Linked DNA regions of Homo sapiens: all the other regions are linked to region 2. The links come from fine-mapping of genetic effects on gene expression. A gene starts in region 2. Each other region holds a variant in brackets. All regions are shown on one strand. Distances are from middle to middle.

The links. PIP is the estimated chance that this variant, and not a neighbour inherited with it, causes the effect.
Region 1: its variant is fine-mapped to the expression of CPSF4 in esophagus mucosa (GTEx, PIP above 0.99).
Region 3: its variant is fine-mapped to the expression of CPSF4 in tibial nerve (GTEx, PIP 0.99).

Annotation. Positions count from the first base shown.
Region 1 is chr7:99,569,352-99,577,532 of GRCh38, forward strand. It overlaps ZNF655 (zinc finger protein 655), which reads left to right. Exons shown (of 3, transcript NM_138494.3): 3 at 2,894-7,102. The coding sequence ends at 4,233. Among named protein-coding and RNA genes, the nearest start is that of ZNF655, 15 kb to the left of the region's middle. The variant C/T (reference allele first, on the strand shown) is at 4,475.
Region 2 is chr7:99,434,562-99,442,742 of GRCh38, forward strand. It overlaps CPSF4 (cleavage and polyadenylation specific factor 4), which reads left to right and starts at 4,382. Exons shown (of 8, transcript NM_006693.4): 1 at 4,382-4,624. The coding sequence starts at 4,522. It overlaps ATP5MF-PTCD1 (ATP5MF-PTCD1 readthrough), which reads right to left. Exons shown (of 9, transcript NM_001198879.2): 3 at 229-707. It overlaps PTCD1 (pentatricopeptide repeat domain 1), which reads right to left and starts at 4,237. Exons shown (of 8, transcript NM_015545.4): 1 at 4,131-4,237; 2 at 229-707. The coding sequence starts at 681. It also overlaps the pseudogene LOC100131859. RefSeq lists silencers at 731-878, 4,377-4,676 and enhancers at 2,005-2,530, 3,827-4,116.
Region 3 is chr7:99,738,978-99,747,158 of GRCh38, forward strand. No RefSeq gene overlaps it. Among named protein-coding and RNA genes, the nearest start is that of CYP3A7-CYP3A51P, 7.9 kb to the left of the region's middle. RefSeq lists enhancers at 45-56, 771-1,283, 1,123-1,141, 2,466-2,484 and a cis regulatory region at 3,700-5,528. The variant G/A (reference allele first, on the strand shown) is at 3,449.

The DNA.
Region 1 (8,181 bases), 130 kb after region 2:
TAGTGCCAAGAAAACTTACACGTTCTTTCTGTGTGTAATTTGGAGGAAGGGATGGATTTTGTTCACAGTCATTATTTATTTTTTTTCAGGGCTTGTTAGGAGGCAAAATCATAATTTTTTTTTTACTAGCAGATTGTTTAAAGGCTAGGTTCTGAAATAAGACTGTGCAGGTTTGAAAACTAAGCATTACCAGTTATTGTAACCTTGGGCAAGCTACTTAACCACTCTGAATCTTAGTATTCCCATCTGTAAAATGGCTATAATAATAGTTTCTACGTTTTAAATTTATGGTATTAAATGAGTGAAAACCTAGAGAGCTCTTGGCATGGTACTTTGCACCTACCAAGTACTTAGTAAAACTTAATAATATTTTGATGGTACTGATGATACCCTGTTCTCTCTTCTAAACTGTGATATTGTATCTTTACCTGCTAGGCATTTTCTCTTTTAAAAAAAATTATTTCAGTAGTTTTGGGGGCGTACAAGTGGTTTTTTGTTACATGGATGAATTCTAATACATAGTGGTGAATTCTGAGATTTTAGTGCACCTGTCACTGGAATAGTGTACATTGTACCTAATATATAGTTTTTTATCCCTTGTCCCTTCTCCCACCCTTTCCCTTCTTAGTCTCTGAAGTCCATTTTATCACTCTGTATGCCTTTGCGTACTCATCTGCTGGGCATTTTCTCTTATACCTTCGTACATTACATTAAACACACATCTAAAATCAAACCCCTCATCCCACATGAAGACCACCTTTTTTGTTGTGCATATGTGTTTTAAGTGTAGATATGGAGTAAGCAGCCAGAATTTATTTCAGTTACCAAATATCGACAGACACTTTAAATATCTCAGAGTTAAAAGTTGCAAATTATGTTATTGGAATTCTGAGAACAATATTGATTGCTGCTTCATGTTACACTAACTTTACTTTTTAAACTTCTGAAACGATTTCATTTGACAGGGTGGACCTTAATTAAATATATGTCCACAAGGAGAGTTGACTCTAAATGTCCCACAGGATTTCAGAAACACAGTAAATACCTTTCTTCTATCTATTCTGATCTCCTTGCTCATAGGCTCTCACATGGAATCTTTGGGGCAGCTGTCAGTTCTTCATATTTTCCAGCCCCAATGCCCTTTTTATAAAATTGGGTAGCTGTTAATACATTGATACTTGGGCGCACAGAGTTGGCACTCAATAAGTAGCCGTTAAGTAAATTAATCAAAAGAATTGCAAGATACAAGATACCTGGTCCCTTCTATCAAAGAGTTTATAAATCAAGTATGAATGACAATACCTGAAACCACTTAAAAAAAAATCTATGTAAACACCGTTATATGTGACATGTCAGGATAAGAGGGAACAACTAATAAATTTTGTACACATTCAGTAAATGGAGAGAAAGGTTTTTGGAGATGAGGGGCTTGAGCCAGACCTTGTATGTGTGCTATTAGAAGCTTTCTGGGCTGGACACATTTAAAAACTGCCCTTTGATACTAATAGTATTAAAATTCTGTCTCCTTGGAAGCAGACTGCCTGTTGCTTTAGCTTTAAAAGAGATTTATATCCAAGCATTGCATTATGCAAGCCATAGAAAGACTGTTTTATGTGAAGATGCACTGATTGCACTTCCCTCTCTATATTTTATTGTAGTTAGTTGTTTAGAGCTGTCTCTGTGTAGAGTGTGAGGTCCTTGAGGGAAGGGACCTTCTTGGCCTCTTATCCCCTGCATACTTTGCATAGAGGAGGCACTTCATAAATGTTTGTTGAATAAATGCTACACTCCTAATGGGTAAGAATGTGTCATATTACTCTTTGTTTTCTTATGTGTACTGAAACAAATTGTTTCTTGAGATTGGTCCTTAGAATATTTATTCAGTTTTCACTGATTCTCTTGCTACAGGTTAGCTAACCATGCAGCAGGTGCTTGAGTTTCACCTTTCTCCAGTCCAGCAGAATTACATTTTGATGACCTCCATTTTGATACTTGTAGACCAGATCTAATCCGAAGATTAATCTTTAGGTAACAGATGGAGAGTGATAATGATAACTTCTGTGAAGACAAACCCATGCACACATTCTGTTGTCTGAATAATATTTAAATGAATCCTTCTGCTCCCAAGTCATCAACTTGCCCCTTAACACACATCCCTCTAGAGCACAAATCTGAGCTCCTTGTAGATCTTTGCCCTCTTCACTCTCCAGACCTTCCTAATTAATGTCTTCTCAGAATCGACCTTCTGTCTCTCTTAATCATTAGTTAAAAGAAAAAGTGGCAGATGTAGGACCTGGGGATACATTGCCACATCCCATTTCCTTCTCTATGAGCAGGATTTCCAATTTCCAAGCCTGATGGGATCTCCCAGCTGGAACAGGATCTACAGGTCTTTGATCTGGAAACTAAGACTAGAGAAGTCTTAAGAGATGACTGCTCAGGTGAGTAAGGCAGAATCAGATAGAATTAGTAGGGAAGTAAAGTTCAATTGTTGAGCCAAGTTGTAGCTGCTTTGGCACTCAGAATGAAGAGCTCTGTGTGTGTCCTAGCATGGAGAGTTCCTTCCTTTTCCCTTCAGTTAGGTTGACCCTTTCCATTTGTTTAGTATCCGTGCACATGTCGTACTAGACCCCAATCAAGTTGCTTATCTAAAATTCTTTCAGCTGTTTCCCTATTATTTCCTTACTCTGCTGAACATGTCCGCTGTTTTACCTCACTGCTCCTGTTTATGCCCTTAACTTCTGCTGTTGAGATTTTGTGCCTGTTTTTCAGAGTAAATAAACTTTTCTTGTCCTTGTAGATACTACATTGTTTAGTTTTCTCATCTGAGTTTTCTTTTCCTAAGCACAGGGTACAGATTACATTTGCATTTTCTATTTATATATTGTATCAGATGGAGAGACCAGAGAAGAGAACAAGCTGTTGATTCCTAAGCAGAAAATTTCGGAAGAAGTGCATTCATACAAAGTGAGAGTAGGAAGACTCAAACACGATATTACCCAAGTTCCTGAGACTAGAGAAGTGTATAAGTCTGAGGACAGATTAGAAAGACTTCAGGAAATTCTAAGGAAATTTCTGTACCTGGAGAGAGAGTTTAGGCAAATAACAATCAGCAAGGAAACCTTCACCAGTGAGAAGAACAATGAATGTCATGAACCCGAAAAAAGCTTCAGTCTGGACTCTACTATTGATGCAGATCAGAGAGTTCTTAGAATACAGAATACCGATGACAATGATAAGTATGACATGAGCTTCAACCAGAATTCAGCCTCTGGTAAACATGAACACTTAAATCTAACAGAGGATTTTCAGAGTAGTGAATGTAAGGAAAGCTTAATGGATCTCTCCCACCTTAATAAATGGGAGAGCATCCCTAACACTGAGAAATCCTATAAATGTGATGTATGTGGGAAAATTTTCCATCAGAGCTCAGCCCTTACTAGACATCAGAGAATCCATACTAGAGAGAAGCCCTACAAATGTAAAGAATGTGAAAAGTCTTTCAGTCAGAGCTCAAGTCTTAGTCGACATAAAAGAATACACACTAGAGAAAAACCTTACAAATGTGAAGCATCTGATAAATCCTGTGAAGCGTCTGATAAATCCTGTAGTCCAAGCTCAGGCATAATTCAGCATAAGAAAATTCACACCAGAGCCAAATCTTACAAATGTAGCAGTTGTGAAAGAGTCTTCAGTCGTAGTGTCCACCTTACTCAACATCAGAAAATTCACAAAGAGATGCCCTGTAAGTGTACTGTATGTGGCAGTGACTTCTGCCATACTTCATACCTACTTGAACATCAGAGGGTCCATCATGAAGAGAAAGCCTATGAGTATGATGAATATGGGTTGGCCTATATTAAACAACAAGGAATTCATTTCAGAGAAAAGCCCTATACGTGTAGTGAATGTGGAAAAGACTTCAGATTGAATTCACATCTTATTCAGCATCAAAGAATTCACACAGGAGAGAAAGCACATGAATGTAATGAATGTGGAAAAGCTTTCAGTCAAACCTCATGCCTTATTCAGCATCACAAAATGCATAGGAAAGAGAAATCGTATGAATGTAATGAGTATGAGGGCAGTTTCAGTCATAGCTCAGATCTTATCCTGCAACAAGAAGTCCTCACCAGACAGAAAGCCTTTGATTGTGATGTATGGGAAAAGAACTCCAGTCAGAGAGCACATCTAGTTCAACATCAGAGCATTCATACCAAAGAGAACTCATGAATGTAATGAAGATGGGAAGATATTTATCAAATTCAGGCTTCATTCAGCATCTGAGAGTTCACACCAGGGAGAAATCATGTATGTACTGCATGTGGTAAAGCCTTCAGTCATAGCTCAGCCATTGCTCAGCATCAGATAATTCACACCAGAGAGAAACCCTCTGAATGTGACGAATGAAGAAAAGGTATTAGTGTTAAACTCTTAATCGACTCCTGCAAATCTATACCAGTGAGAAATCTTA[C/T]AAATGTATTGAATGTGGCAAATTTTTCATGCTATTAGTATTTTCATACCTTAGTCACATTTGGAGAATTCACATGGGAATAAAATTCCATTGCTGCAATGAATGTGAAAAAGCCATCAGTCAAAGAAACTACCTTGTTTAGTATCAAATTCACGCCATGCAAAAAGATTATAAATGTAATAAGCATGTATGTGTGTGAGGAGATTCAGTCATAACCCAACGCTCATTCAACATCAAAGAATTTATACCTAAGAGAACTTATTTGGGTGTAGTAAATGGCAGATCTTTCAATAGGAGTTTAACTAGTCTTTGTCATATCAGAATATCCATAGTAGACAAGAATTTGATGTAACGCAAATGGAAAAACTCGACACCACATTTCAGGCTTTACCCAACATCGAAATAATGGAGAGAAAATTGTTGATTATTTGTTTATGAAATTGTTAATACATAGTCCCAATCTTTTTCATTGCACAAAAATCTAGGGTTGACTTGGTAAATGCAGTGACATTTTCTCATGGAGTTCCTTTATTTAATATGTATTCTAAGTAGGTACGTTTATTTTTACTTTTTTATTATAATTTTGATATTAAAAAGAACAGAGATGGGGTCTTGCTTTGTTGCCCAGGCTGGTCTTGAACTCCTGGCCTCAAGCGATCCTCCCACCTGTCCTCCCAAAGTGCTGGGGTTACAGGCGTGTGTCACTGTGCTGGGCCTATTTTATTTATAGAACTCATTTAAGCTGTTTTTATTTTAATATGCCCTATAAACATTTTTATATTTTTTGAAATTGGTTCTTAGTGTTCACAACTTCCATAAGATACTGCTAATGCACCAGTATTAAAACACATCGACGTAAGTAGCTCATTTAGCTTTTTCTGCTGTTCTTGGCCCAAGTTCTTTCCAAAACCAACTCTTAGGCCTGCTCTTTACTAGGGATCTTATGTCGTATTGCTTTACAGCCACAACACTTGGATTCCTGTTGATTAACTTCTCCATTCTCTTAAGCACCTTTAGAAGATTTAGAAGTTTCCTAGTTTTAAGTGTTTCACCAGCAAGTATTCCATACCTACTTGATGTTGCTGGTCTGGTGTCTTATTTCCTAAAGTGAAGCATCTTTTTTTAAAAAAGAATTTGATTGACAATATATCCAGTCCAATATAAGTATGAAGGATTCTCTCTCCTGAGATTGTAGCAGGCAGCCAAACATTTTCAAATGATGCCCAAGGTTTTAGCTGTCTTGTGTGCATCCACAGTCTGCGAAGAAGACATGATAAGGACATCAGGGAGCCAACAAGACTCCTAATAGCCTCACTACATTCATCCAGTGCCTATTCTGCATGCCTAAGCTTAGAGTTCTTTTATATACCTCTACGGCCAGCAAAATGCTCAGGTCTGCTCTTGGTAGGGTAAACATAAAGAAGATACACAGGCCGGGCATGGTGGCTCACACCTGTAATCCCAGCACTTTGGGAGGCTGAGGCGGATGGATCACGAGGTCAGGCAGTCGAGACCATCCTGGCCAACATGGTGAAACCCCGTCTCTACTAAAAATACAAAAGTTAGCCGGGTGTGGTGGCACGCGCCTGTAATCCCAGCTACTCAGGAGGCTGAGGCAGGAGAACTGCTTGAACCTGGGAGGCGGAGGTTGCAGTGAGCCGAGATTGCACCACTGCACTCCAGCCTGGGCGACAGAGCAGGACTCTCTCTCAAAAAAACACAAAAAAACAAAAACAAAAAACCATACACACACACACACACACACAAATCAGCATCATAAGGGAATGTAGCCTTCCAACAGAGATGATGCTGTTCGTATGTTAATCTCAGAGACAGTATTTCAAGAGAGTGGCAGGTCTGTTCCTGGTAAAATTTTAACCATTAGGATTGCAGATAAATGTTTGAATTCTGCTCCTCTCTCATCAATCCAGGACAGTATTTGAAGTGTGAGGGCTTTGTGTATAGTTGTTTATCCATTACCACATTTTTGTATTTTAATAGTCTACAGGCTATATAAAAGAACATGGCTTTTTGACTGATAAAAGTGATTACAGATGTTGGCTCAAGTTCAGGGCCACCATCATATACCTAACAAGAGTTCATGATTCTTTAGGTAATGTCAAAACATTTTGTATTTTTCCATCTTAAGCTTTATAACATTTTGTGAGTAAGACAAATGTTATTTAAAATTCTTGTTGTCAGTCCAGCAATTGAGGCTTTCATAGTTCAGTGTTATAATATTCAGTAGGGACCCTCAACAAATATATAAAAATATGTTGCTCACTCTATAATCCTCCTATGGCTAACCTCTAGGATAGTTCTGCCACTATATTTTACTTCTTTGCCATCAGCAAGAGTAGGATTTCATCAAGGCAAGGTAGGAATCTAAATGAAATTGATATATAAATGAATTGATCTAAATGTAAAAGCAAATGAAAAATGCATGTGTTTTTTCCTGTCAAACATGTATACCCTTATGTATAGAGACCAGTAGTCACGTATGGTGACTGAAACAGGATTATGTAATCCCTAAAAAGCAGAATATGTAAAAATCACATGTATGCGTTTGGTTTAGGAATGTGCTTTTGTACTTCCACTTGAATAAAGGTGTGTTTGGTATTCTGAGAATTTGTTTCAAACAAAATCTGAAGGTCTCAGACAGAAGCGTTTGGGAATGTTGGAATCACATCTCTGGCTGCAACTCCTTTCCTCCCTGGAACTTGCTTCACAGCAAGAATGGATCACTTTCCTTTGCATTGATAACAAAGCTTGCTTTTCCACAGACCTCTGGAACAAAAGCTGAATGTTTGGGACTTAAAGGGGATTTGATTGGGAAGTTGTTGGTATATAAAATAAGACTAAATAGTTCGAGGTTTCAGTAGAACTAGGAATAACTTTTTGTTTGTTTGTTTGTTTTTTGAGACAGTCTCGTTCTGTCACCCAGGCTGGAGTGCAGTAGCGTGATCTCGGCTCACTGCAACCTCCGCCTCCTGGGTTCAAACGATTGTCTTGTGTCAGCCTCCCAAGTAGCTGGGATTACAGGCACCTGCCACCTTGCCTGGCTGATTTTTGTATTTTTAGTAGAGACCGGGTTTCACTGTGTTGGCCAGGCTGGTCTCAAACTCCTGACCTCAGGTAATCTGCCTGCCTCAGCCTCCCAAAGTGCTGGGATTACAGGCGTGAGCCGCTGTGCCCAGCCATATTTTTTAAATAAGTAAAACACTTTAAAAAAGGCGGACTCAAAATAGTCCTTTAGGGCAATCCTTTAAGCAGATATTTAATTGGCCTGATACATGAGTTTGTGTTCTGAGTCATTTTGGTCTTGAAAGGGGAGAGAAGAGAAATACGATAGTAGAGGGCACTTTTATCTTCTGTCTTTCCACCTACCTACACACACGTATGTTTGTACATATCTAAACTTTATTCTCAATTCTGCAAAGCAGCTAGCTTCATTTTACAAAGGAATATTTTAGTAAACATACCCCAGGCCAGGTGCAGTGGCTCACGCCTGTAATCTCAACACTTTGGGAGGCTGAGGCGGGCAGATCACTTGAGGTCAGGAGTTGGAGACCAGCCTGGCCAATGTGGCGAAACCCAGTCTCTACTTAAAATAGAAAAATTAGCCAGGCATGGTGTTGCGTGCCTATAATTCCAGCTACCTGGGAGGCTGAGGCGCAACAATAGCTTGAGCCTGGGAGGCAGAGGTT
Region 2 (8,181 bases):
GTAAGATCAGCTCAGTGCAACCTCCGTCTCTACAAAAAAAAAAAAATACAATAAAATAAAACTGCGGTGGAGGATGGCAAAGGGTTGCGATACTTACAGCCATAAGGCTGGCAGTTCAACAGGGTAGGCCCAAAACTTAGAGGCTGGGAAAGTCAGGTGACCCCTTGCAAAACACTGAGCCACCAGGGGAAAGAAGCCAGGAGCCACAGAACCCAAAGTGCCCCTTACCTTCCCTTCCTTGATCAGGTGTTTGCACTGCAAGAAGTACCAGTACGGGGTGTTTCTCCGGCCTCGCCATAATTTGGGCTCCGGTTCCATTTGCTCATCTCTCCGTTCCCCAAACCGCAGGTTATGGAACTGGGCTGCGGATTTGCGGAATAGTCTCCGGGAGGAGTATTTGTCAGAGAGGGTCCCAAAACTCTCCTCCTCCTCCTCGTCTTCTTCCTGCGTGGCCGTGGAGTTGGAGTGGCTCGGGTCAGAGCCCAGGCTGCCCGTGTTTTCCTGACGCTCCTGGCCGAGGGGCAGCTGAGAGGAGGAGCTGCTGAAGGGCGCCCACATTGGCCGCATCAGCCCCTCCCTGCCTCCTGCCCACCTGGCTCTACAGGGGTCCAGGTGTTGCAGGATGAACAGTCCCATGGGGCGGGCCCTGGCGAACAGTCGAGCGAGTCTCACGAAGTCCATTTCTGGCTTTCCTGTCCCTCCAGGGCCTGGAATATATCAGGAAAAATAAGAGAGTCAACTCAGTTCCTAGTAACAAAAGGCAGAAAGAAAGAAGTGGTTACAAGTATGGGCCCAGGCCAGGCGCGGTGGCTCATGCCTGTAATCCCAGCACTTTGGGAGGTCGAGGCTGGCATATCACTTGAGGTCAGGAGTTTGAGACCAGCCTGGACAACATGGTGAAACCCCGTCTCTATGAAAAATACAAAAATTAGCCAGGCTTGGTGCTGTGCGCCTGTAATCCCAGCTACTCAGGAGGCTGAGGCAGGAGAATCACCTGAACCTGGGAGATGGAGCTTGCAGTGAGCTGAGATTGCGCCACCATACTCCAACCTGGGTGACAGAGTGAGACTCTGTCTCGAAAAAAAAAAGAAAAGAAAGAAAGAAAAAGAACAGGCCAGGGGCGGTGGCTCATGCCTGCACTCCCAGCACTTTGGGAGGCCGAGGCGGGCAGATCAGTTCAAGACCAGCCTGGCGACACCCCATCTCTACTAAAAATACAAAAAACATGAGCTGGGTGTGGTGCTACACGTCTAATCCCAGCTACTGAGGAGACTGAGGTAGGAGAATCGCTTGAACCCAGGAGACGGAGCTTGCAGTGAGCTGAGATCGCGCCACTGCACTCCAGCCTGAGTGACAGTGAGACTCTGTCTCAGAAAAAAAAAAAAATAATAATAATAAATAAAATAAGAAGTATGGGCCCAGAGGTTAGAAAGCCTAGGTTCAGGTCAGACATAGCTCACTGCAGCCCCACCCTCCTGTGCTCAAGCGATCCTCCCATTTCAGCCTCCCGAGTAGCTGGAACTACAGGTGTGAGCCACTATGCCTGGCTAATTTTATTTTTTGGTAGAGACAGGGTCTTGCTATGTGCCCAGGCTGGTCTTGAACTCCTGGACTCAAGCAATCCTCTCGCCTCGACCTCCCAAAGCACTGGGATTACAGCAATGAGCCACCATGCCCAGCCTAAAGTATTTTAGAGTCTGGTTATATTAGAAGGTTGCGATTGGAAAAGTCTTACAAGTGATGGCAGATTGAACAGATTAAAAACTAGGCCCAGTAGGTCAGGAGCGGTGGCTCACGCCTGTAATCCCAGCACTTTGGGAGGCCAAGGTGGGTGGATCCCCTCAGGTCAGGAGTTCGAGACCAGCCTGACGTGGTGAACCCTATCTCTGCCGAAAATATAAAAATTAGCTGGGCGTGACAGCGTGCCCCTGTAATCCCAGCTACTTGGGAGGCTGAGGCAGGAGAATCACTTGAACGTGGGAGGCAGAGGTTGCAGTGAGCCAAGATCGCGCCATTGCACTCCAGCCTGAGCGACAGAGCAAGACTCCATCTCAAAACAACAACAACAACAACAAACAAAAAACTAGGCCCAGCAAGGGGAGAGACTTGCTGGGGTCCTGCAGCAGTGCAGTGGGTGAGACTGGCCAGCTTGGGCTGGGCTGGCTTTGAACTCAGGTCCATGTAACGCATTGATGATTGTCCTGACCAGCACCTTTTGTGAAACTAGTGCAGGGGGCCTTTATCATTCTGCATCTGGCAAGCCCTGCCACTCCTTCTTACAAGCATGGTGTTTATGTAATTTTCTTTTTTGTGGAATGGGGTCTTCATGTTGCCCAGGCTGGAGTGCGATGGCACAGTGGAGTGCAAATGCACAATCACTGCAACCTCCAACTCCTGGGCTCAAGTGATCCTCCTACCTCAGCCTCTCAATTAACTAGCACTACTGGTGCACACCACCATACCTGTCTAATTTTTTGTATTTTTTTGTAGAGATGGAGTCTCCCTATGTTGCCAGGCTGGTCTAGAACTCCTGGCCTCAAGCAATCCTCCAGCCTTGGCCTCCCAAAGTGTTGGGATTGCAGGCGTAAGCCTCCATGCCCTGCCTTACGTGCATTAATTACAATACACAGAATTACAAAACAAAAAGCAATGATATTGAAATGGCATCAAAATGCTTTAAAAACAAATTTCTGCTATACTAGTATAGATGCTTATTTTCAATGCATGAAATAACAAGACCCTATCATAATTTCTTTTCTTTTCTTTTTTTTTTTTTGAGACAGTCTCTCACTCTGTCCTCAGGCGTGACCTCGGCTCACTGCAATTTCCGCCTCCCGGATTCAAGCGATTCTCCTGCCTCAGCCTCCCCTGGAGCTGGGACTACAGACGCATGCCACCAAGCCCAGCTAATTTTTGTATTTTTAGTAGAGACAGGGTTTCACCATGTTGGCCAGGATGGTCTGGATCTTTTGACCTTGTGATCCGCCCGCCTCGGCCTCCCGAAGTGCTGGGATTACAGCCGTGAGCCACCGCGCCCGGCCGACTCTATCATAATTTCAAAGCAGTAATAAATGTAAGTGACAGCTTAAGATACCACCTTGTAGTTGCTGCACAAACTGGGTTTTTTTGCGTCTCACTCTGTCACCAGGCTGGAGTGGGGTGGTACAATCTCGGCTCAATGCAACCTCTGCCTCCCGGGTTTAAGCCATGCTCATGCCTCAGCCTCCCAAGTAGCTGGGATTACAGGAACGCGCCACTACTCCAGGCCAATTTTTATATTTTCAGTAGGGACGGGGTTTTGCCATCCTGTCCAGGCTGGTCTCGAACTCCTGACCTCACGTGATCCTCTCGCCTCAGACTCCCAAAGTGCTGAGGTTACAGGTGTGAGCCACCATGCCTGGCCCTGCACAAACTGTTATCTGGAACTATCATTTACACTCACCCTCACAGTTTCAGGCACTGCTAAGGCTGCTCCAGCAATCAGGAAAGGAAATGCTATACTTCACATAGAGAAAAATAGGGGTGCATTTTGTTCCTACACAAGCTCATTACCCCACCCTGGTTAAAAAAAACCCTGAATTAGGCTGTATAGTGGCTCATGCCTGCAATTCCAGCACTTTGGGAGGCCCAGGCAGGAGGATCGCTTTGGGCTTGGGGCCAGGAGTTCGAGACCAGCCTGGGCAACATAGCAAGACCCGCCACCCGCCCCCCCAACCCCGCCGTCTCTACAAAAATTAAAAATAAAATTTTAAAAATTAGCCAAGTGTGGTGGTGCAGCGTCTGTAGTTCCAGCTACTCGGGAGGCTGAGGTGGGAGGATCGCTTGAGTCTGAGAAGTTGACTGCAGTGAGCTATGATCGTACCCCTGTACTCCAGCCTGGGCCACAGAGCGAGAAAAAACCCTGAATTAGAGACACGCTGCGGCCGTCCTTCCTCGGAGAGACCCGCCCCTCCTCAGAGGCCCACCCGGACCCTCAGGCCAACGCCGACCCCTCTCCACACGGACTTCTGCAGCCTCAGTTTCCCTCCTCAGACGCCCCCGGCTCCAATCCCGGCTCGGGCACTTCCTTCCCCTCTGGCGTGTCTTGGCCCGGGTCCCGGGGCTCCTGCGAGGATCACACAGGAACTCACTTGAAGTGTCCGGCGCAGTGCACTCCGACGGGGAGCCCTGCCCGGTCCCCGCGGCGAACCAGTCTCTTCCTCGGGTCCCCCTCTCCCCAAGCGCGCAGGCGCAATCCGCGTCGCCGACTCACGCGGCTGGTTTCAGGTTTCTGGCGAGGCCGGTGTTCGGCTGGCGGCTAGCTGGGACTAGCGGAACGGCGGAGTCTCGATTGGCAGTGCCTGGACAGGCGCAAGGGCCGGCGCGGGCTCCGGGCGCTCCCGGCATCCCTCGGGCGGCGGCGGCGGCGGCGGCGAGGCGAAGCGAAGGAGGAGTGTGTGCGGCGGGGCCGGCGGCGGGTAAAGGCGAGAAGGCTGCAGGAGACCGAGGGGGAGCCGGGCCGGTGGGGCCGCCGCCGCCGCCATGCAGGAAATCATCGCCAGCGTGGACCACATCAAGTTTGACTTGGAGATCGCGGTGGAGCAGCAGCTGGGGGCGCAGCCGCTGCCCTTCCCCGGCATGGACAGTGAGCGCGGGGCCCGGGCGGGAGGGCAAGAGCGACTCGAACCCGGGACCCGCTCCTCTGTGATCCCGGGACTCCCTCGCCTCGGTCCTGAGACCTCCCCCGGCTTCCTCTGGATCCTGGGACCCCTCCCCTTTGGTCGCAGGACTCCTCCCTCTAGGTCTTGAGAGTCCCTCCCACCTCCTCCGGGTCCTGGGATCCTCCCCTTTAGTTACCGAACTCCCTCATCTGTGGTCCCGAGACTCTTCCCACTCCATCCTGAGACCTCCTCTTCTGGATCCCGGGACGCTCCCCTTGGTTTCAGGACTCCTGACTCCCAGGCCCCCATTTCCACCGTCTGGGGACTCCTTTTACCCTCACTCGGACTCAGGAGTTCACTGCCTCGGATCTTTGGCCCTCTGCGGCTGTTCAAAGGTAATCTGTAGGAGGGTAGACCTTGTCTGTTCGCTTAATTCTTGAATAAGGGTGGGTTATCCTGGATTGGAACTCTCCCTCAACACTCTCCCAACTGCAGGAGAGTACTAGGATATCACACCCGCTACGTTGAGCGTCTCTTCTTGATTTCATCAAAACTAGGCGGTTGGAGGAGATGTGCTGAGGGAAGGACCACCTTTCTGTAGGAGACCCCAGCTAGACTCTCAAACTCCCTTCTAGGACTCACTCTCCTGGGAGCTCATCCCTAGTTTTTGGCCCGTCCCTACTTTTTTCTGGACCCCAACTCTGAGTTATTCATCACACCCAGCAGCTGGTGTGGACCCTTGGCCTGAACTCCCTTCACTGCTCCCCTTCATATGGTGGCTCCTGGCTTCCCACCTCCTACTCGGTGGGATATCTTGTACTTTAAAAGAAACCAGTAGTTTTCTTTGTGTCTTCTTTCCTATCTGGACATACTTGAAATCTAATGCTATAACCTTAAAGTTTGGGGGCTTGTGGAAGTCACTGAGTTCAATCCACAGATGGGGAAACTGAGACCCAAGCGGGGGAAGGGACTTGCTGACAATCACTCAGTGCATAGCAGAGGCGGGCAAGCTCTCCAGTGTTGTGTGCTGTCGCCCACAACTACCAGCGGGGTCTCCCACCGCTCCCAGCAGCCTCACTCCCCTCAGGCGGTCACACCTTCTCATGCACATGTGACCTCTGAGTCTGTCCCTTTATGTGTTTTTGTTGTTGTTGTTTGTTTGCTTTTGAGACAGGGGCCCCTCTGTCGCCCAGGCTGGGTGCAGTGACGCAATCATGGCTCAATGCAGCCTCGACTTCCCAGGCTCCAGCAATCCTCCCACCTCAGTCTCCCAAGTAGCTGGGACCACAGGCATGCACCAACACGCCTGGCAAATTTTTTTGTGTGTATTTCTTGGTAGAGACACTATTTCATCATGTTTCCCAGGGTTGGTCTTGAACTCCTGGGCTCAAGTGATCCTTTTACCTCGGCCTTCGGAAGTACTGGGATTATAGGCATGAGCCACTGCACCTGGCATATATATATATATATATATTTTTTTTTTTTTTTTTTTCCTGCCTGTCCCACAACTTTACATGGTGATAGTTCTGTACAAGATAGTTTCATTGGAAATTAATTAAGTCTTCAAGAAGACAAGATAGTGCTTATAAGGAGACATCATCAGACCACCCTATTTGACACAGGCACAAACACCATCACCACTGTACACTCCCTAAAAAGCAGCTGCTCAAATTCACACACACACACCCCCTCTTACCTACCCCTCGACTCTTGTGATCATCCCTGCACATGTGGCCTTTTCCTGTCTTTTTTTTTTTTTTTTTTTTGAGACAGAGTTTTGCTTTTGTCACCCAGGCTGGAGTGCAATGGTGCGATCTCGGCTCACTGCAACCTCCACCTCCCAGGTTCAAGCAGTTCTGCTGCCTTGGCCTCCTGAGTAGCTGGGATTATAGGCGCCCACCACCACGCCCAACTAATTTTTGTATTTTTAGTAGAGATGAGGTTTCACCATGTTGGCCAGGCTGGTCTTGAACTCCTGACCTTAAATGATCCACCTGCCTCGGCCTCCCAAAGTGCTGGGATTACGGGCATAAGCCACTGTGCCCAGCCGGCCTTTTCCTGTCTTGATGGCACTAGCTTGAGACCATGGAACCACCCACGCAGGGCAGCTCTTTTCCTCCCACCCTTCTGCCATCTGACACATCCACAAGCCTGTGAGGGGAGGTACAGTGGCGAGGGGCCCACATACCTGTTCCTGAGGCCCGGGACACACCTAGCCATGGGTGTTGCTCCAGCCAGGGCTTCAGAGTCGGTAGGCACCCTCCACACTCGCTGCTTGTCCATATCCTGTTCAGTTAAAGCCTAGTGAGGCCACAGCCCTTCCTCACCCATCCCTCCTCTTCATCCCCATCTGAGTTTTGGGAAGAACTGTCACTTTGCCCATAAGGCATACTCATCCTATCCACATGAGACTCAGTTCCCAGAACTGTGTATTTCTGAGCAGAAGCAACTCTAACCTCTAAAGAGAGAGACCAGAAGTACTTTCAGAATTTTTTTTTTCTTTTTTTTTGAGACAGAGTCTTGCTCTGTTACCCAGGCTGGAGCACAGTGACGCGATCTTGGCTCACTGCAACCTCTGCCTCTGGGTTCAAGTGATTCTCCTGCCTCAGCCTCCCAGGTAGCTGGGATTACAGGCACGTGCCACCATGTCTGACTAATTTTTGCATTTTTAGTAGAGATGGGGTTTCACCATATTGGCCAGGCTGGTCTTGAACTCCTGATGTCAAGTGATCCACCCGCCTCAGCCTCCCAAAGTGCTAGGATTACAGACGTGAGTCACCGCACCTGGCCACTTTCAGACTTTTTGAGATGCAAATGGAGTGACCTCCCTGTGACAGCCATAAGTTCTATAACCTCAGCTGTGTCCTAGCAAAATCTGCTTGCTTCCAAGAAGCCAAGGAATCTTTTGTGATTTAGCAAGGGGAGGCATGTTAAGTGGGCTTCAGAGATGCTGTCATTGGTTTTTCAGCAATTCTAAAATGGTTACTTGTAGAGGAAACTGTTTCTGATGCCAAGGTCAGTTTAGTCTGGCAGCTGGGGCTGGTGAATTCCTGGACTCATCAGAACAGCTGGTCCCTGGAGCCCACTGAATTCCAGCACACTCCGACTGTGGGAATGAAAGGCTGTGCTTTTTTTTTCTTTTCTTTTCTTTTTTATTAACAAGCAACATAATCGGCCGGGCGTTGTGGCTCACACCTGTAATCCCAGCACTTTGGGAGGCCGAGGCGGGCGGATCACGAGGTCAGGAGATCGAGACCATCCTGGCTAACACGGTGAAACCCCGTCTCTACTAAAAATACAAAAAATTAGCTGGGCAAGGTGGCGGGTGCCTGTAGTCCCAGCTACTCGGGAGGCTGAGGCAGGAGAATGGTGTGAACCCCGGTGGGGCAGAGCCTGCAGTGAGCCGAGATCACACCACTGCACTCCAGCCTGGGCAACAGCGAGACTCCGTCTCAAAAAAAAAAAAAAAAAAAACAAAAAACAAGCAATATAATCAAAAACAAAAACACAACAACCTTAAAGCTGAAACAGCAATAAGTCA
Region 3 (8,181 bases), 300 kb after region 2:
GGGCCTCATGCTTAGGGGTGGTGTTGAGGAGAGTGACAGGTCCATGGACATGTACTCTAGGCACTGGAGGAGGTAGGTGTCTCACTTCGATGCCACTGTATGTTGGTTAGTCTGTATGCCTGCTGTGTTCAGGGCATGTGGCAAGCACTAAATATTAAAGAATCAAAATCCTTGTCCTGATGAAGCTATCTCTCTAATAGGACAAAGAGATACTAAACAGTGACAAAAATAATACTGAATTACAAATTGGGAAAAATGCTATGAAGTAAAAGAACCCTTTACTTAAGCTCCCAGTGATATCAGACACAGTTGATCCTTCTTTCTTTCCTTAAACTCTCTCTCTCTTTGAAAGACATGAATACAACAGAATCAACAAGACTTGACAGATGGGAAGTGTGAGACCTTGGATATTCCTGGATCTGTTTCCTCATCTGTCCATGGGGGAAATTGACCAGAATTGGCCTATGAAGACCAAGGTCCTCCTTGTCCCAATCAGAAGACCCCTGCAGGACTGCCTGCCTCTCAGCCTCTGTGTCCCTCTAGGAGTTTTGAAGACATTCCCTGTCCTCTATTCTCATTCTCTTATAGATCACTTAGGGTCCACCAGGTCTTCCAGCCCAATCAAAGACCAACAGCTCCTACAGGCAGGAGAAGAGCAAAGGTGGGATAGGATGCAACTGGGAGAAGATAACCACCCATTTAGGCCCTGAACTTTAAATTATGGATGGGTTTCTTAACTGAGATTGCAGTGAAAGGGTTTCACACATTCTCACACCCACTCACACTCAGCTTTTACTCAAGGAAATGATAGTGAATACGTGTCATGCTAAGTATTTACCCTGCATTAACTGATTCAATCTGTCTAACAACCCATGGTATTGATGTTGTTATGATCCCTATTTTACAGATGAGCAAACTAAGCCACAGGAAGGTTAACTGACCCATCCAAGGTTACGTCACTAATTGCTCTAGCAGAGCCAGGATTCATATGTAGATTCTGTAGCTGGAGAGCCCAGGGTCATAATCTTTTGACATAAGCCCAGCCTTGCCCAAGGACACACAGAGTTAGTGGGGAACTAGCAATGCAGCTCAGGCCTTCTGAATGGGTAGTGGCCAGAGCTCTGTCCCATATGCTGGGACAAAATGAAGTCCCAAAGCAAACTTGTCAGTGAGGACTGGGGTGAAGCAATGTCCTTTCTTCTCCCTGCCTGCCCTTGCCCTGAAGTATATGCACTTCTGTAGACTTTACAACAAAAAAGAAGAGGAGCTCTCTCTCTCCTGCCACCTTGTGAAGAAGGTGCCTTCTTCCACTTTGCCAACTGCCATGATTGCAAGTTTTCTGAGCCTCCCCAACCATATGGAACTGTGACTCAATTAAACCTTTCTTTGTAAATTAAAAAAAAAGAAGAGGAGGAGGACTTAATCATAACTGTTTTCTTTCTACTCTATTCTGGAGTGTCTATTTCTTGATAAAGTAACCACCAACATCTCCATGGCACTTCATAATTTATACAGTTCTTTCCCAACTCTCCTAATATCAGCAAGAAAACTTTGTAAGATGAGTAGTATTAGGATGATTTAACTCATGCTTTATAGATGTGGAAACAGATAGTTAGAAATAGACTTCAGACGTGACTAAGCCATGAAGCCAGGGCATGGAGCAGGACATTGTGATTTCAAATTGCATCAGTGGTGTTCTTGCTGGGATTCCAAGAAGGCTCCTAAAACAACTTGGCAGGTTGTGTCAGCCACACATGAGATAAATATTTCTCTCTACACCTCCCAGCACACTGCCAGTGTAGTTATAAAATGCTACAGAGCTGGTTATGACCATGAAAACAACATGTGCATCCTACACTTTACTAAATTGTGTATTCAGTGAGCTCATGTTTCAGCAGAAAGGGGAATGTTGCAAATAATTCTGACATGTCACAATCAGAATCATTTGTGTTTCCAGGAAAGCAAAAAGTAAAAGGTGATGAAACCAACATGTAAAAGAGAAATCAAAGAATATGAGGCAAATTTCAGAAGAGCACGTGGAAGGGAATTAATGAAACAGGAAATTGGTGAAGGAAATGAAGATTGTCATGAGATGTGTTACAAAACATCAGCAAAACCTACACCATTTCTCATACTCCTTATTTCAGTAACCTCCTAGCTTCTTTTGCCTACCCTGGGCAGTACTTATCCAGGGAATTCCCTACTCAGCCACCAGACAGCATCTCAAAAAACATGGAATCTTAAAGCATGCTTCCTTGGCTTCAGTCCCTGCAACTGTTCCTATCACTCACAGGATAAAATCTAAGTATATCTAGGAAGTAACACAAGACCCTTTCTCATCTGGCCACTGTTAGCTTCTTCAGCCTGTCTCAGTCCACTTCTCCAACTGTACACGGTGTTTTAAGCAAATGGTGCGATTGGCTACTCCCCAGGCTCTGCAAAAATGATGTGTTCGTGTCTCCTTGTGTCCACACAAGCTGTTCTTTAGCATAGACTGGGTCCAACCCAGCTTCCATCTGGTGCATTCCTAACCATCCTTCAGGAGTCAACCAGGGCATCATCTCCCCAACAAGCCTCTTTCATGACCACAGCAAGCAAATGCTGGAGAGGGTCCCGCTGGTGCTTTCTCACAGTTTTAACAGCTGGACACACAGTGGCTGTCATCCCGGGATGCTCACAGAATTCACATGCATGAGGAGCTTTTAAAAACCACAGATTCACTGTGTGTGGAGGCACAAAACTGTAATCTCAGCACTTTGGGAGGCTGAGGCAGGCAGATCATGAGGTCAGGAATTTGAGACTAGCCTGTCCAAGAGATCACAATGGCCTATATTGTAAAACCCCGTCTCTACTAAAAATACAAAAATTAGCCAGGAGTGGTGGTGGATGCCTGTAATCCCAGCTACACAGAAGGCTGAGGCAGGAGAATCACTTGAACCCAGGAGGTGGAGGTTGCAGTGGGCCGAGATCAGGCCATTGCACTCCAACCCCAGCCTGGGAGACAAAGCAGGACTCCAACTCAAAAAACAAACAAACAAACAAACAAACAAACATAAAACCCACAGGTTCCTGGGCCTACCAGAAATGAGAAAGGGTTGCCTAGGAGCCTAACAATGAGGAGGCAGGGACCATTGAGGGCCATCTGGAGAGACTCCAAAGTGTCCCATCAATCCAGTTACATGAAAAAGAAGGCATCACACCCAACTCATTCAATGAGGGCCACATGATCCAAATCTGAAAAAAATCAGGACCGCAAAGGAAGATGACATGCCAGTCTCATTCATCGGCATCAGTGCAAAAATGCTGAACACAATAGTAGCAAGCCAGAGACAGGAGTGTTCAAAGATGATACACCATGACCAAGTTGAATTTAAACCTGAGACTCAAGAATAGTTAACAGAGAAAAAGTATAAATACCAATGATCTCATCAACAGATTAAAGGAGAAT[G/A]ATTATAAGATCATCTCAATTGTTTTAGGAAGAGCCTTTGCTAGTTCAATAATAATATATTAATAATACATGATAATATTCAACTCCCATTCATGATATAAAAAACCTTCAACAACTAACAGCAGTGAATTTTATTAATCTGATGAAAGCATCTACCAAAAAAAATTAGAGAAAACATTATTCTCAGCAGTATAAAAGCATTATCCTCTTATACCTTCTTGTTTACCATGTGCACAAATTACCTTTCCAAAACTAGTAACATCTTTAAAAAATCCTATCAGTTAACTTACTTTTTCTGTAATTGAAAAGAATATCATAGCTTGTCCTTGTCAGAAGTCCAGCTTGTGATTCACCTGGGGTCAGCATAGGGCAAGGTTTAATAAACACTGAAATAACTAAACATTGTAATGCCTCATGGGGCTGCTTGAACTGACATGATTTCAAGGGCACTGAGAGGCTGGGGGAAAGCAGAGGGTCAGCAAGTTCATTCAGCTGAGATTATCTCAGTTTACAAACTGGAGTTTATGAACTTTAGTTGGGACATGAGTTTCATTGATTATTGGAATGAACCATCTCTCGAGAATAAACCAGCATCCAGCATCGGGCATGAAGTTCCAAGAGGACCCCAGGGAGAGATGTTACTAGGAAGCTTGCCAAATCCTGTGACTTTCCAGGGGGCCTGCCCACCCAAGTGCAGCCCATGCCTGACACCCAGCCCTCAATGCCCTATTCTGATCAGTTACATGGTTATCTCCAGAACCATGGGGCCCTCTCTATCGGTGTGAATGGGTTGTCCACTCTGCCCAGTGCTGTGACACAACACAGGGGAACAGAACCATAAGGGAAAATGTGAACAAGACCTTCAAAGAACGAGTCATGCTGAGACCCAAGGTGGGGGTACTTCACCACACAGAGGGAACTGGGGAGACACCAGGAGCTCTGGGAAGGCAGAGATAAGGGGATCTGGAACTACCTGGTGTGAAGTATTCCTAAAGGAGAGACTGTCTGCATTATCATCAACAGAGAAGTGTTTGTATAGAAGAGGGGAAGGTGAGAAGCATTTCAGGCTGTGAGAATGGTTCAGCTTTTTTTAGTAATAAAAAAATAGAGAAAGTAGAAATTGCTTTTAACTTTGTGTATTGAATAAGTAAGGAATGGCGTCCCAACCGTTTTCTTTATTATTATTATTATTACTATTACTATTATTATTATTATTGTTTAGACAGAGTCTTGATGCATTGCCCAGGCTGGAGTGCAATGGCACAATCATGGCTCACTGCCACTTCAATCTCCCAGGCTCAAGCAATCCTCCTGCCTCAGCCTCCTGAGTAGCTGGGATGACAGGCATGCATCACCATGCCTGGCTAATTTTTTGATGTTTTGTAGACATGAAGTCTGGTCTTGAACTGACTTGTCTAGGATGGTCTTGAACTTGTGGCCTCAAGTGATCCTCCTTTCTCAGCCTTTCAAAGGACTGAGATTACAGGAATGAACCAGAGGCCAGCCACTTTATTATTAACAAGGTTCAATATTTCTGGATTTTTGATAGCTGTGTTTCTTCTTTGATAAAATGTTCATGTCCACTCAGCTCTGCACCCAGTGGACTGAATAGACATCTACAGAACTCCACACCCCAAATCAACAGAATATACATTCTTCTCAGCATCACATCACACTTATTCTAAAATTGACCACATAATGGGACATAAAGCATGCTCAGTAAATGTAAAAGAATGGAAATCACAACAAACTGTCTCTCAGACAACAGTGCAATCAAATTAGAACTCAGGATTAAGAAACTCACTCAAAACCACACAACTACATGAAGACTGAACAACCTGCTCCTGAATGACTACTGGGCAAATAACAAAATGAAGGCAGAAGTAAAGATGTTCTTGAAATGAATGAGAACAAAGACACAACATACCAGAATCTCTGAGACACATGTAAACCAATGTGTAGAGGGAAATTTATAGCACTAAATGACCACAAGAGAAAGCAGGAAAGATCTAAAATCAACACTGTAACATCACAATTCAAAGAACTAGAGAAGGAAGAGCAAACACATTCAAAAGCTAGCAGAAGGCAAGAAATAACTAAGATCACAGGAGAACTGAAAGAAATAGAGACACAAAAAACCCTTCAAATAATCAGTGAAACCCAGGAGCTGGTTTTTTGAAAAGATCAAAAAAATTGACAGACCGCCAGCCAGAATAATAAAGAAGAAAAGAGAGAAGAATTAAATAGATGCAATAAAAAATGATAAAGGGGATATCACCACCGATCTCACAGAAATACAAACTACCATCAGACAATACTATAAACACCTCTACACAAATAAACTAGAAAATCTAGAAGAAATGGATAAATTCCTGGACACATAAACCCTCCCAAGACCAAACCGGGAAGAAGTTGAATGTCTGAATAGACCAATAACAGGCCCTAAAATTGAGGCAATAATTAATAGCCTACCAACCAAAAAGTCCAGGACCAGATGGATTCACAGCTGAATTCTACCAGAGGTACAAAGAGTAGCTGGTACCATTCTTTCTGAAACTATTCCAATCAATAGAAAATGAGGGAATCCTCCCTAACTCAGTTTCTGAGGCCTGCATCATCCTGATACCAAAGCCTGGCAGAGACACAACAAAAAAAGAGAATTTTAGACCAATATCCCTGATGAACATTGATGCCAAAATCCTCAATAAAATACTGGCAAACTGAATCCAGCAGCACATCAAAAAGCTTATCCACTACAATCAAGTGGGCTTCATCCCTGGGATGCAAGGCTGGTTCAACATATGCAAATTAATAAATGTAATCCATCACATAAACAGAATCAACGATTAAAAAACCACATAATTGTCTCAATAGATGTAGAAAAGGCCTTCGACAAAATTCAACAGCCCTTCCTGCTAAAAACTCTCAATAAAGTAGGTATTGGTGGAACGTATCTCAAAATAATAAGAGCTATTTATGGCAAAACCACAGCCAAAATCATACTGAATGGGCAAAAACTTTGAAACCAGCACAAGACAACGATGCCCTCACTCATGACTCTTATTCAACATAGTATTGGAAGTTCTGGCCAGGGCAATCAGGCAAGAAAAAGAAATAAAGGGTATTCAATTAGGAAAAGAGGAAGTCAAATTGTTCCTGTTTGCAGATGCCATGATTGTATATTTAGAAAACCCCATCGTCTCAGCCCAAAATCCTTTTAAGCTGATAAGCAACTTCAGCAAAGTCTCAGGATACAAAATTAATGCGCAAAAATCACAAGCATTCCTATACACCAATAACAGAAAGAGAGCCAAATCATGAGTGAACTCCCATTTGCAATTGTTACTAAGAGAATAAAATATCTAGTAATCCAAATTAAAGGGAGGTGAAGGACTTCTTCAAGGAGAACTACAAACCACTGCTCAACAAAATCAAAGAGGACACAAACAAATGGAAGAATGTTCCATGCTCATGGATAGGAAGAATCAATATCGTGAAAATGGCCATACTTCCCAAGGTAATTTATAGATTCAATGCCATCCCCATCAAGTTACCAATGACTTTCTTCATAGAATTGGAAAAAAAACTACTTTAAATTTCATATGGAACCAAAAAAGAGCCCACATTCCCAAGACAATCCTAAGCAAAAAGAGCAAAGCTGGAGGAATCACGCTACCTGACTTCAAACTATACTACAAGGCTACAGTAACCAAAAGAGCATGGTACTAGTACCAAAACAGGGATATGGACCAATGGAACAGAACAGAGGCCTCAGAACAAACACCACACATCTACAACCATCTGATCTTTGACAAACCTGACAAAAACAAGCAATGGGGAAAGGATTCCCTATTTAATAAATGGTGCTGGGAAAACTGGCTAGCCATATGTAGAAAGCTGAAACTGGATCCCTTCGTTACACCTTATACAAAAATTAATTCAAGATGGAATAAAGACTTAAATGTAAGACCTAAAACCATAAAAACCCTAGAAGAAAACCTAGGCAATACCATTCAGGACATAGGCATGGGCAAGGACGTCATGTCTAAAACACCAAAAGCAATGGCAACAAAAGCCAAAATTGACAAATGGGATCTAATGAAACTAAAGAGCTTCTGCACAGCAAAAGAAACTACCATTAGAGTGAAAAGGTAGCCTGCAGAATGGGAAAAAATTTTTGCAATCTACTCATCTGACAAAGGGTTAATATCCAGAATCTACAAAGAACTCAAACAAATTTATAAGAAAAAAACAAGCAATCTCATCAAAAAGTGGGCAAAGGATATGAACAGACACTTCTCAAAAGAAGACATTTATGCAGCCAACAGACACATGAAAAAATGCTCATCATCACTGGCCATCAGAGAAATGCAAATCAAAACCACAATGAGATACCATCTCACACCAGTTAGAACGGCGATCATTGAAAAGTCAGGAAACAACGGGTGCTGGAGAGGATGTGGAGAAATAGGAACACTTTTACACTGTTGGTGGGACTGTAAACTAGTTCAACCACTGTGGAAGTCAGTGTGGCGATTCCTCAGGGATCTAGAACTAGAAATACCATTTGACCCAGCCATCCCATTACTGGGTATATACCCAAAGGATTATAAATCATGCTGCTATAAAGACACGTGTACCCGTATGTTTATTGTGGCACTATTCAAAATAGCAAAGACTTGGAACCAAGCCAAATGTCTGTCAATGATAGACTGGATTAAGAAAATATGGCA